Linked DNA regions of Homo sapiens: region 1 is linked to region 2. The links come from fine-mapping of genetic effects on gene expression. A gene starts in region 2. The other region holds a variant in brackets. All regions are shown on one strand. Distances are from middle to middle.

Region 1 (5,388 bases), 220 kb before region 2:
ACCTCGGCCTCCCAAAGTGCTGGGATTACAGGCATGAGCCATAGTGCCTGGCCTGAAACCTTTTTTAAAAAAAAAATCTTTTCTGTATCTAATATAGATTTTGCTTGTGGTTACTATGAGGCTTATATAAAATACACTTGTAACAGGCTATTTTAAACTGATAGCAACTTAATTCTGACCACATTAAAGACTCTATATTCTTAAAAAGAAAAATAAAAAAAAAGAAGTTCTGTTTAACTCTGACTGGGCAGTGGAACATGGGGTAATTATTTTCATCTAAGGAATAAGAAGGCTTCGTAGGTAAACACCAGCTGAGCAAATGTTGAGCCATGAGTGGGTATTAACTAGGTAAGGGGAGTGGAGGTGAAGCATGGAAGAGGAGGAAAATGCATTCCAGGCAAAGAAAACAGCAGGCTGTTCACCTCACACCAGAAAACTCCTCTATTGTTTTCCAAAATTAGATGGGCTACGAGTAATCCTCTATTGATGGTCTTTGGACTCCATATAACTTTATATCTGATGCGGAGAAGCATCAGAATAATCACTCTTTACACAGGACTGATATTCAATTTAAATACGTGCAGGTCTCCATCTACAGTAGTTAAATGCTCACACATAAAGCACAGAGTCTCTGTTAGTTCTTGGCTCCTAGATCCAGTGATTGGTTTGTTCCTCAGCATTTGCTACCAAGCAGATTGACAGAAAATGCCAGCATTTTAGAGTAATACGTGTGCAATGCTAGGACTATAGAAATATATGTGTGTACTTTGGACAGGTATCTGTAAATGTTACCTATGCCTGCCCCAGAAAACACAGTTTCTCTCTGTCTCCCCCAGCCCCCATATATCTGTATATCCATTTGTCCCCTCTCTCCTCTCTCTCATCTCAGCAAATGAGATGATGGTGAGAGGGTTGAAAAGGCCATCTTTGCAGTGATAGGAAAGCAAATCCTTCAGAATAAATGTTACCTGGAAATATCTCACTATTTTGCAAAAGTCATTGCCTATATTATTTTCTATTTTCAAGGATCAAATACCTGTCTTTGGCTGTCATAGTCTAGAGGTTTGCCGTTTTACCATTTCAAACTCATTTATGTGTAAGGTATAATTGTGCACACATGCAAGATACAAATTCTTCTTTTAAATATTGGTACATAGACTAATGAATAAAATCATAATCATAGGCTGGGTGTGGTGGCTAACACCTGTAATCCCAGCACTTTGGGAGGCTGGAAAGCAGGAGAACCGCTTGAACCCAGGAGTTTGAGACCAGCCTGGGCAACATAATGAGACCTCATCTCTACAAGAAAAATTAAAACAAACAAACAAAAAAGCCAGGTATGTGCCATATTCCAGTGGTCCCAGCCACTCAGGAGGCTGAGGTTGGAGTATCACATGAGCCTGGGATGAGGAGGTTGCAGTGAGCTGTGTTCATGCCACTGTGCTCCAGCCTGGGTGACAGAGCTAGACGCTGTCTCTAAAAAGTAAAAAATAAAACAGTAATCGTGTGCATTCCAAGATAAAATAATTAAACATGATTTGAATGTTAACTGATTTTCTATTTACTGATTAGGATCTAGCCCTTTCTCAAACTAGCAGTAGTTTCTTCTCACTTTTAAAAACACTCTTTACGTAGTTTGTTTTTTTTTTTTTATGTTAGAACAACCTCATGTAAAATCATGGAGACACTAAGAGGACCCAAATTTGTACATATCCCAGAAGTAATAAAGTAATCCACTTGTGTAAGTGCTAACATTTAAGCTTTAAATTTTTTATTTTGAAATAATTATGAATTCACTAGAAGGTGCAAAGACAGGGGGGTCCTGGGTACTTTTCATCAAGTTTCTGCCATGAATTCATTTAACGTAACTATAGCACACTATTTAAACCAGGAAATTGACATTGATACAATATATGTATATAGTTTATATCAGTTAATCACATGTGTAA[G/T]GTATAGGCACTACCACAATCTAAATGCAAAACTGTTCCATCTCAGACCCATCCTCTCCCTGCACTACAGCCATGGTTAACCCATGACCACCACTAATCTGTTTCCAATCCCTGTATTGTCTTTATTTCAAGAAGGTTGTGACCTTATGAGATTGGCTTTTTTCACTCAGCATACTGCCCTTGAGATCCATCCAAGTTGGTGCATCTAACAACACTTTTGTTGTTCTTCTTGTTGTTAGGTCTTCTTTTGTTTTTGCTGAGCAGTATTTCATGATATAGATGTACCACAACCTGTTTAACTATTCACTTATTGAGGAGTATTTTAGTTTTTCCAGTTTAGGGCCGTTAAAAATAGAAATGCTGTGAACAATCATGTACAGATTGTTGTGCATACATACATTTTTTACTTTCGTAGATGAAATATTTTTAGTTTTGATAAAGTCCAATTAATTCTGTTTTTTTTTTCCTTTATGGATTATGCTTTCGGTATCATGTCTAAGAACATGTCAGCAGGCCCTGGGGCTCAAAAATGTGCCTCGATGTTATATTCTAAAAGTTTGTAGTTTTATGTTTTCCATTTAAATTACAATCAAATTGAGATAATTTGGTAGAACTTAGAGAAAGTTCTGGGTGAAAGAAAAATCTATCTTTAAATCAAAAGTATTTCTGTGGAAGCATTTCTAGTAAATTACCGAGAGCTCCTGGAAGAAAGGGACCTATATCTCCAAGCCTCCATATTTTGGTTTTGATTACTTGTCTCACTATAGATAAATATTTACATTGTTTTTACTTTTTTTTTTTTTTTTAGACGGAGTTTCACTCGTGTTGCCCAGGCTGGAGTGCAATGGTGTGATCTCGGCTCACCACAACCTCCGCCTCCCAGGTTCAAGGAATTCTCCTGCCTCATCCTCCCGAGTAGCTGGGATTACAGGCATGTGCCACCACACCTGGCTAATTTTGTATTTTTAGTAGAGACAGGGTTTCTCCATGTTGGTCAGGCTGGTCTCAAACTCCCAGCCTTAGGTGATCTGCCCACCTCAGCCTCCCAAAGTGCTGGGATTACAAGAGTGGGTCACCGCGCCCTGGCCAATATTTACTTTTATATCATGTTTTATATTTTTAATTTTGTGTTCCTTGTTTTAAGGAATAGAGTCTCCCTCTTCCCCGACCCCTAAATAACATTGTATAAGTATCCAGTCTCTAACACCTTCTCTATGGTGTAGGAAACATTCAGATTGTGTGTGGAAATGCATGTGACCTAAAAGTATATATGAACACTTGTAGGAACAAAATGACACAAAGAAGCTACAGAGTTAGAAAATCATATTAAAAGGGAGACTTTTTTTAAAAAACGTGAAGGATGGAAAAGGGTTTTAACTGTTTGCTTCTATTAGACCTTTCTCCAGAGAAAACCGTCAAAAGCAAAGCTATCAAAGAGATTCTCCAGTAGCTCTCAGACAGAACAACAGTCCAAAGGGCTCTTCAAGAGAAAATCTAATGTTGGGAGGCTCCTTCTTATAGTGAGGGCACAGAGGAGGGCTCCTTCTTAAGAGAAGGTCAACTACTCTGCAAGTGCCTGAATTTGGTCGTCAGCTCAATAGCAAGAATCTCGAGGGACATTTTTCTGTCTTGTTTAGCATTTCAGTAGCTCTTTTTTAAAATTACATCTCTTAAGAATTTACATGTAATAAAATGTATTCATTTTCAATGTGCATATGGAGAAATTTTAGAAACGGTATATATCATCATAACTAACACTACATTCAAGATGTTGACCACAGTATATTTTTGTCATAATGAAAACTCTCAACATATAGGTTTTGATGTGAAGTTCAGAACAGGGTAGACCAGCATAGTCAGTGGAAATCTTCAAATCATTTACCAGTAATTTCTGAGCATTTGGCCACTGGCAGACATTTTGCTAGGTACTAGGGATGCAAAGATAAAAATGTAATAAGCTCTGACTTCACAGTTTAATGAGAACTCAAAGTCTTATGGGTGAGAGACACTGACTCTACTACAAGTGATCAAAGTGGAGGGAGTTTGGGATGTGATCAATGAGGGTTGAAAACTGTATAACATTTTGCCTGCATGGAAGGGGTGCAAGAATAGAAAAGGTGAGTGAGGATATTAACCTACATGTGCAGGGAAGCAATGAGGAATAATACTGATAACTGAAGTGGGGCATGAACAGGTTCACAAATGTGTGAATGTTATTCTTTCAAGTCATAATCCAAGAGAGGGAAAGTAATACATTGCTTCCACTGAAATACCCTCTTCATTACACTTGCAGAGGAGGAGCAGAAGTGGTGACATTGTCATGGGACCTGAGATCTCTTGGAGGAGAAATGGATATCTACAGGTAGAAAGAATTCCATCTTTGATGGTTTCATGCATACAATACAGAAAAAAAAAATGGCATGCATACAATTCATAACCTTTTATTTTTCAAACTCTCAGGTGCCATGAAAGAAGACAGGAGAACTAGCTAGTGACAGATTTTAGTTCTATAAGAATCTCACAAATAATTCTTGAGTGTTGGAGACTGATTGGATGCTTTTTTTTTTTTTTTTTGAGACGGAGTCTTGCTCTGTCGCCCAGGCTGGAGTGCAGTGGCACGATCTTGGCTCACTGCAACCTCCACCTGCCGGGTTCACGCCATTCTCCTGCCTCAGCCTCCCGAGTAGCTGGGACTACAGGCGCCTGCCACCACGCCCAGCTCATTTTTGGTATTTTTAGTAGAGACGGGGTTTCACCGTGTTAGCCAGGATGGTCTCGATCTCCTGACCTCCTAATCTGCTTTCCTCAGCCTCCCAAAGTGCTGGGATTACAGGCGTGAGCCACCGCGCCCGGCCAGGGCGCTTTAATTAAGCTGCTATAGGACTTCCAACCTTCTCTATGCCTCTTGCCTACTGAGTTTATTTTGCCGATCTCTGAATCTCAAATAGAATGGGCTTCTTCTGCTATGGTGGAGACTGGGTAACTATTCATCAAACTTATTTTATCTTCTTCCTAGTCATGGATCAGGATTATATTTTCTGGAACCTTGGCAGATAGGTATGGTCATGTGACTGAGTTTTAAATAAATGCATTTATTCCAGGACTGACCCTTGAAAACTTTCCAGGCACAATTCTCCATATTTCTTCAGTCTAGTACAGATAAGCATGGTGATCCTAGAAGCCAATGATGAGGATTCCATAGACATTGGGGAAATGAGCTAGAGTCTTTGAATTATTGCTTTGAAAAGAGTTACCAACCGAAAGTACCAGTTTTGTAAATGAGCAAGAAATAATTTTCTATCATGTTTGAGCCATGACACCTTTAGGAATTTATTTTTTAACACTTGTTGCCTTAAATAAAATACTCCTTAACTGATATTAATAATATGATTACTAAGAGAGAAATGTGACTTGGATTTGAAAATGGATTTTTCCTCTC
Region 2 (5,388 bases):
AATCGTATTTGTTAGAGAATATGTGAATTAATTCAAAACACATTTCCCAAATGTGTTGGTCAATGAAATTATAGGTTAATAGTTCTACTAAATGATGTAAATTGGCCTTTATGAGAGATCATTTATTTAAGTGAAAATTCAGTTAACTCTAAAAAGTGAATTTATTAAGCGCTAGCTTAATCTCCTCATCATTTAGAACTGCACCATCAAGGTCTTTATAATATGTTCAAATAAATGCAACTCCCTAAGAGTGAAATATTTTCTTTAAACTTCCCACGTGTGTCCCGTGTATCTACATTTACAGGAAGGGAAGATACACGATTTGTTACATCAGCTCAGCAGCAGTTCATTTTCGCTATCTGCAAAGAAATTAGATTATATTTTTACATAACCATAGTGATGAGCTTTGTTTTCAAGTTTATTCTAGTCTGCTTGTACAACACATAGTATTAACAGTTTTTATATGTCTGTCGACAGAGAAAAAGAAATAAGTCATAAGCAAATACATATTTGAAATGCAGTTGTTGTGAAATAAACATCTTCTGTCCCTCATATTAAAAAGGTATTTAGGAACAGAAAGTTTTAGCATACTCATCACATTTTAAAAATGTGTACCAAAGAAAAATGATAGTTTTAGATTTTCATGCTACTTTTTGTCTTGTGATGACCTCTCCTGGTTGAGTTGCTCATTATCTTAGATTCATGTAGTTTCCATCTTTTTCTCCTTTGAATGTTTTATATTAAGAATATAACTATCATACTTTTCTTCAGAGCTATATATAATGTAAATAAAAATGTTCATTAATGTAAAGTACAGTTGATATTTAAAGTACTGAATCCATGAAACTCATTCTAATCAATAAAGTTCTGTAGCATCCTTATTATTTAATTCATTTCCAGGATATAGGGCAACTTTGCATTTTGGTCACACAGTTTAAATTCAAACGAAATAAAAAGCCACCTTAATTAAGCCATTACACATTTTTAAACAATAGAGAATGAAAGCCAAGTTAATAAAAAATCTTAATGGCCATAACTATTAACCATCTTAAAAGTAATTGTTTCTATGTTCTCTGTCTTCAAATTCTAACTATAAAGTTGAAAACTCAGAAAATATTTATGAAATAACAACTTTTTTATCTTAAAATGCATTAACCCAAGGGCTGCCAGTGTTCCATTTGCTACTCATGGCAGATGTTTCAGATGGACCCATCAAAATTAAAGTATACAGAATGATGGAACACAGAACCCAGGAAAAACCCTGGATATGAGGACCTTCAATCAGTGAATATAATAAATTTAATATATGAGGAGTTTATTTTCCAGGAAAAGTGGCAGGAAATTCTATACAACCAGACCTTGAAATGGAAACAGAAATTTCATCAAACTAGTTTCCCAGTGATAGAGTTACATATTTGTGTAAATATCAACAGCAAGCATTATATCCCCAAAATTTGTTTAAATTTATAAAATTGACATAAATATTAACAATATTTAACTCTTTGTGATTTAACTTGTGTTATAAAAAATGCTATACAATGTTTTCAAGTTCATTACAAACTTAGATTGCCAGTTAGTTTATCTCCTTATCTTTACACATTGTGGGAAAAGAAAAGCTAATACTGTACTTAGGAAGATATGTCAAAACAGTAATACTGGCTCATAACCGGATATTATATAGTAGATTCCTTATTACAACTTATAATGTCCTTTTTCAATGCTATTCCTGTTGATATTTACCACTACAATAAGATCATTATTAACAAAGATGCATTAATACATCCCAAAATCTTAGAAACAAAGACTACTTCGCATATGACGAATTCTGGAAAATATTAAACTTTTCTTTTCCTAAATGGACAAAAAAATCTTCCTTTTAAACTCTGAAATCTCCACGATAATTCTTTATCAACTTACTCATTCTCAGAAACTAGTATGCGCTTATGAATATTATCCTAAGATTCCTATAGGCAGTCTTTCTAGTGTTTAACTCTTTCTGAACCAAAGGAACAATCATGCATTTCCTCTCTACATGCACAGTATGCACTTCTAAAGGAATGCAGAAAATGGGCCAGAATCTTCCATTTCTTTCTAAACCTCATGAAAACAGGGGCAGTCTTAAACACACACACACACAAACACACACACACAGTTGATTAAAATGCAGAGATATACATATTGAATATAATTATTTTCCTGAAAACCCTATTAAGAATCTGTTTATTACTACATTAACGACGCTTTGCACTGAGTGTCCCAAGTACCGTACTGCATCAGTCATATCCATGATATCAAAGTATCAAAGAATTAAAGCAATTTCAGTTACAATTTCGCTGCCTTCCATTTTAATAAGCAAGTACTAAATGGGCATTAACTTTTTAAGGGAACGGGAGAGGTTAAAGAGACCCTATAGGTGCCCAAACTGTTTAAAACATGCTCCTCTTGTTAACCTCAACCCCGTGCTCATTAAGTTATAACCATAAATAAAAATAAGAAACTTGGTTTTGCCATGGTCTTCACTTTTCATTCACTGACCTACCTAAGCCAAATGCAGTTAACTCTCCCTGCACAAACAACTCCTAAGAAGCTGCCATCTACATCAGTCTCTCTAGCCAAGCTCTTGCCAACCGATCACCAAGACCAGGAACAACTTTCCAGAAACATCACCAGCGTCACAACCCTGTCTCTTCCAAAACAGAAACGCTGGGTTTCGAGTTTGTCTACTGCAGTGGCTGCAAGTGTGTGACAGCGGAGACACAAACACATCAGGGTGCCAGCACTGCGATGCACTTCGGAGTTGATACCCTGGTGCCAAACATCAATGCCGCACTGAAACTGCTCCAGAGCAGAGCGAGGAGACGGCTACTTACGGGACGTGGAGGGAGCCGTCCAGGCTCTGCAGAGGCAGCTGCTGACAATCCACAGCAGGAGCGCTGCCCCGCAGCCGGCGCGCGGAGCCGCCTGCATCCTTCGCCTCCCGGCCGGCGGCGCTCCAAGAGCTCGCTGCGGAGATGCAGTCCGACTCTCCGTAGGGTTCTTGAAGGGAGATGGGCTGTCCTCAAATACGCGAGGAAGCCAAGCCCCTCCCGCTTCCTCTTCTCCCCTCACCCCCCTCCAGGCTCCAGTTCTTCCGGGCTTGGAGCGGCAGGGGAGTCTCAGCCTTCGTTCTCCCTCCGTGCGGGTATTGCCTCTTGCACTGTGTGCCAGTGCAACGCCGGGGGAGGAAATTCAAACCAAGAAGGCAAAGGAGGGGGAAGAGGGGAGGGAACGGACACCTACCCCGCCCTCTCCTTCTTGAAAAAAAAAAATCACCAAAGGACGGGGGAGGGAGGTAATCAGAAGAGCAGAGGCTGCAGAAGAGGAAGGCAGAGCGACGGGGACGGTGGTGCAGCTGTTGCCACTGCGGGCGAGCGCTCCCTCCGCCGCCGGGCAGCGTGACTCGAGGGGTTTCCACTCGCCTGTCAGCTCACATGGAGAGCTTGTGTATGTGGGGAGCGCGCAGCGCAGCCGGGGCGCACGCACGGCCTCAGCGCTGCGCCGCGCGAGGAAGCATCTCCCGGGCGGCGGAGCGCGAGCAGCAGCAACAGCCGCGGAGAGCAGGAGACGCCGCCGCCGCCGCCGCCGCCGCCAGCTCCTGTGAGCCCGGGCGGCGAGCGAGGCGGAGGGAAGCCCTCCCTTCTCTTCCCTTCTCGGTTCCCTCCTCGGCTCCTCCTCCTCCTCCGCCTCCTCCTCCTCTTCCTCCTCCTTACCGTACCCCTCTGGCTGTCAAAACCCTTCTGCCCTGCCCTGGCCTCGTTTGAAAGCAAAAGGGAGACTGAGCCGACCGGCCGGGGTCCATCAGCTGGGGCGGGGGCGGAGCAAGGAGGCGCGCGCCTCTCCCTGGGCGGGAGGTGATGCTGTCCGCGGTGCTGAAGTTGGGGATTTGCCGTGTAATCCTAGAACCCTGCTCCAAACCTGGCTGCCCCCTACCCGGCTGCAGGAAGGAGAACACCCTCGCTCGGATGCCTTCTCCTTTCCTTCTCTCCTCCCCTTCAGATAAAGATGGTACAGGCTCCTGGAGCTCCGGCCCCCCGGGAACCACAGTCAGGCGTCCGACAGGCAGGTCTTCCGAGTGGTCCTAACACCAAGTGACGGTGCTAAACATCCCGACTGACTGGAGCAGGGAGGGAGGACTGCAGATGCCGTTAATGCACATGTTTTCGATATGTAATTAATTCGTACTCATACATATGCACACGTACACCAAACACACGCTGCTGCCAGGAGAAACTACACTTAGGCAAACACGCATACAAACACAAACACAAAACGGAAATACATAAGCAGGCATATGGGTAACTATTTCAAGGTACCTGAGGCATTGCAAGCACTAAGAATTAAGAATGTTTAGAGAGACCTAGATTTTTTCACATTTAGATAATTTTAATAATAATTATCAAGCTCTTCTCCCCAGCTCACAGCTCTTCACACTCTACCCTCCATATGTTTTTCTTCCATCTAGTCTACTTAAAGTATTTGAATTCTTATGTCTCTGCAGAGCCAAGCATTCCACTGACTTTATTGACACAATTAAAAATTATTGGTCATCTAAATATCTAATGATGTTTGTGGAGGACTAAGTAGGAGTAACCATGTCTTTCGATGTTATGCAATGAATAAGCATTTGCATTTAAAGATAAATAGAAAATTTATGGAGGCTTGCCTAATCCTGGAATAAACTGAGTTTTTAACATCATTGTTTGGTCTTAGAAAGGTCCACTGTAAATAGTACTGTGTATTCACTGCATAATTAATATGGTGTTAATGGGTCTGATTCAGCGCTTTTTATTTGATCTTTGTTTCTTGTTAATTTAAAAGGATGCTTTGTCCTAGTAAGAACTGCAGATTGGGTACAATATGGAAAATGAAGAAACACACAGATGACTAATGGGAGGTGAACTGCCTCCTCATTCTATAAAATACTCCTCCTGTAAAATAATACAGCAAATGCATTCTTATGGATTATAAAATGTCCCTTTGCTGTTTGAATTATCACAGACTGTCAAAAGTCAATGACCACTTGCCAAAACACTCCAGTAAAGAACTGCCATCAGCCATTTCTAAGAGCTCAAAGAAACAAGTCATAGGAAAAAAAAAAACTGTCAGAAAGCGTAACTTTTCAGAACAATCTATTATTTAACTATGCCTCTCCATTTTAACTATCATACTGAACTCCAATAACATAGCATTAAAGTATTTTCAATAGAAGAAAAAAGGCAGCGATTGAAAGTATTACCATTTCAGTAACTCAATGAATGCTATTCCATGGGTATCTCAAGCAGAACTGAAACAATTCCATTTCCCAGATTACCAAACTAAAAGACATGCAATAGACATCTATTTAATTAT

The links. PIP is the estimated chance that this variant, and not a neighbour inherited with it, causes the effect.
Region 1: its variant is the best candidate, but not a certain one, in a credible set for the expression of CNTNAP2 in whole blood (TOPMed, PIP 0.52).

Annotation. Positions count from the first base shown.
Region 1 is chr7:146,333,566-146,338,953 of GRCh38, reverse strand. All of the region lies in intron 1 of CNTNAP2 (contactin associated protein 2), which reads right to left. Among named protein-coding and RNA genes, the nearest start is that of CNTNAP2, 220 kb to the right of the region's middle. The variant G/T (reference allele first, on the strand shown) is at 1,950.
Region 2 is chr7:146,114,456-146,119,843 of GRCh38, reverse strand. It overlaps CNTNAP2 (contactin associated protein 2), which reads right to left and starts at 3,043. Exons shown (of 24, transcript NM_014141.6): 1 at 2,871-3,043. The coding sequence starts at 2,967.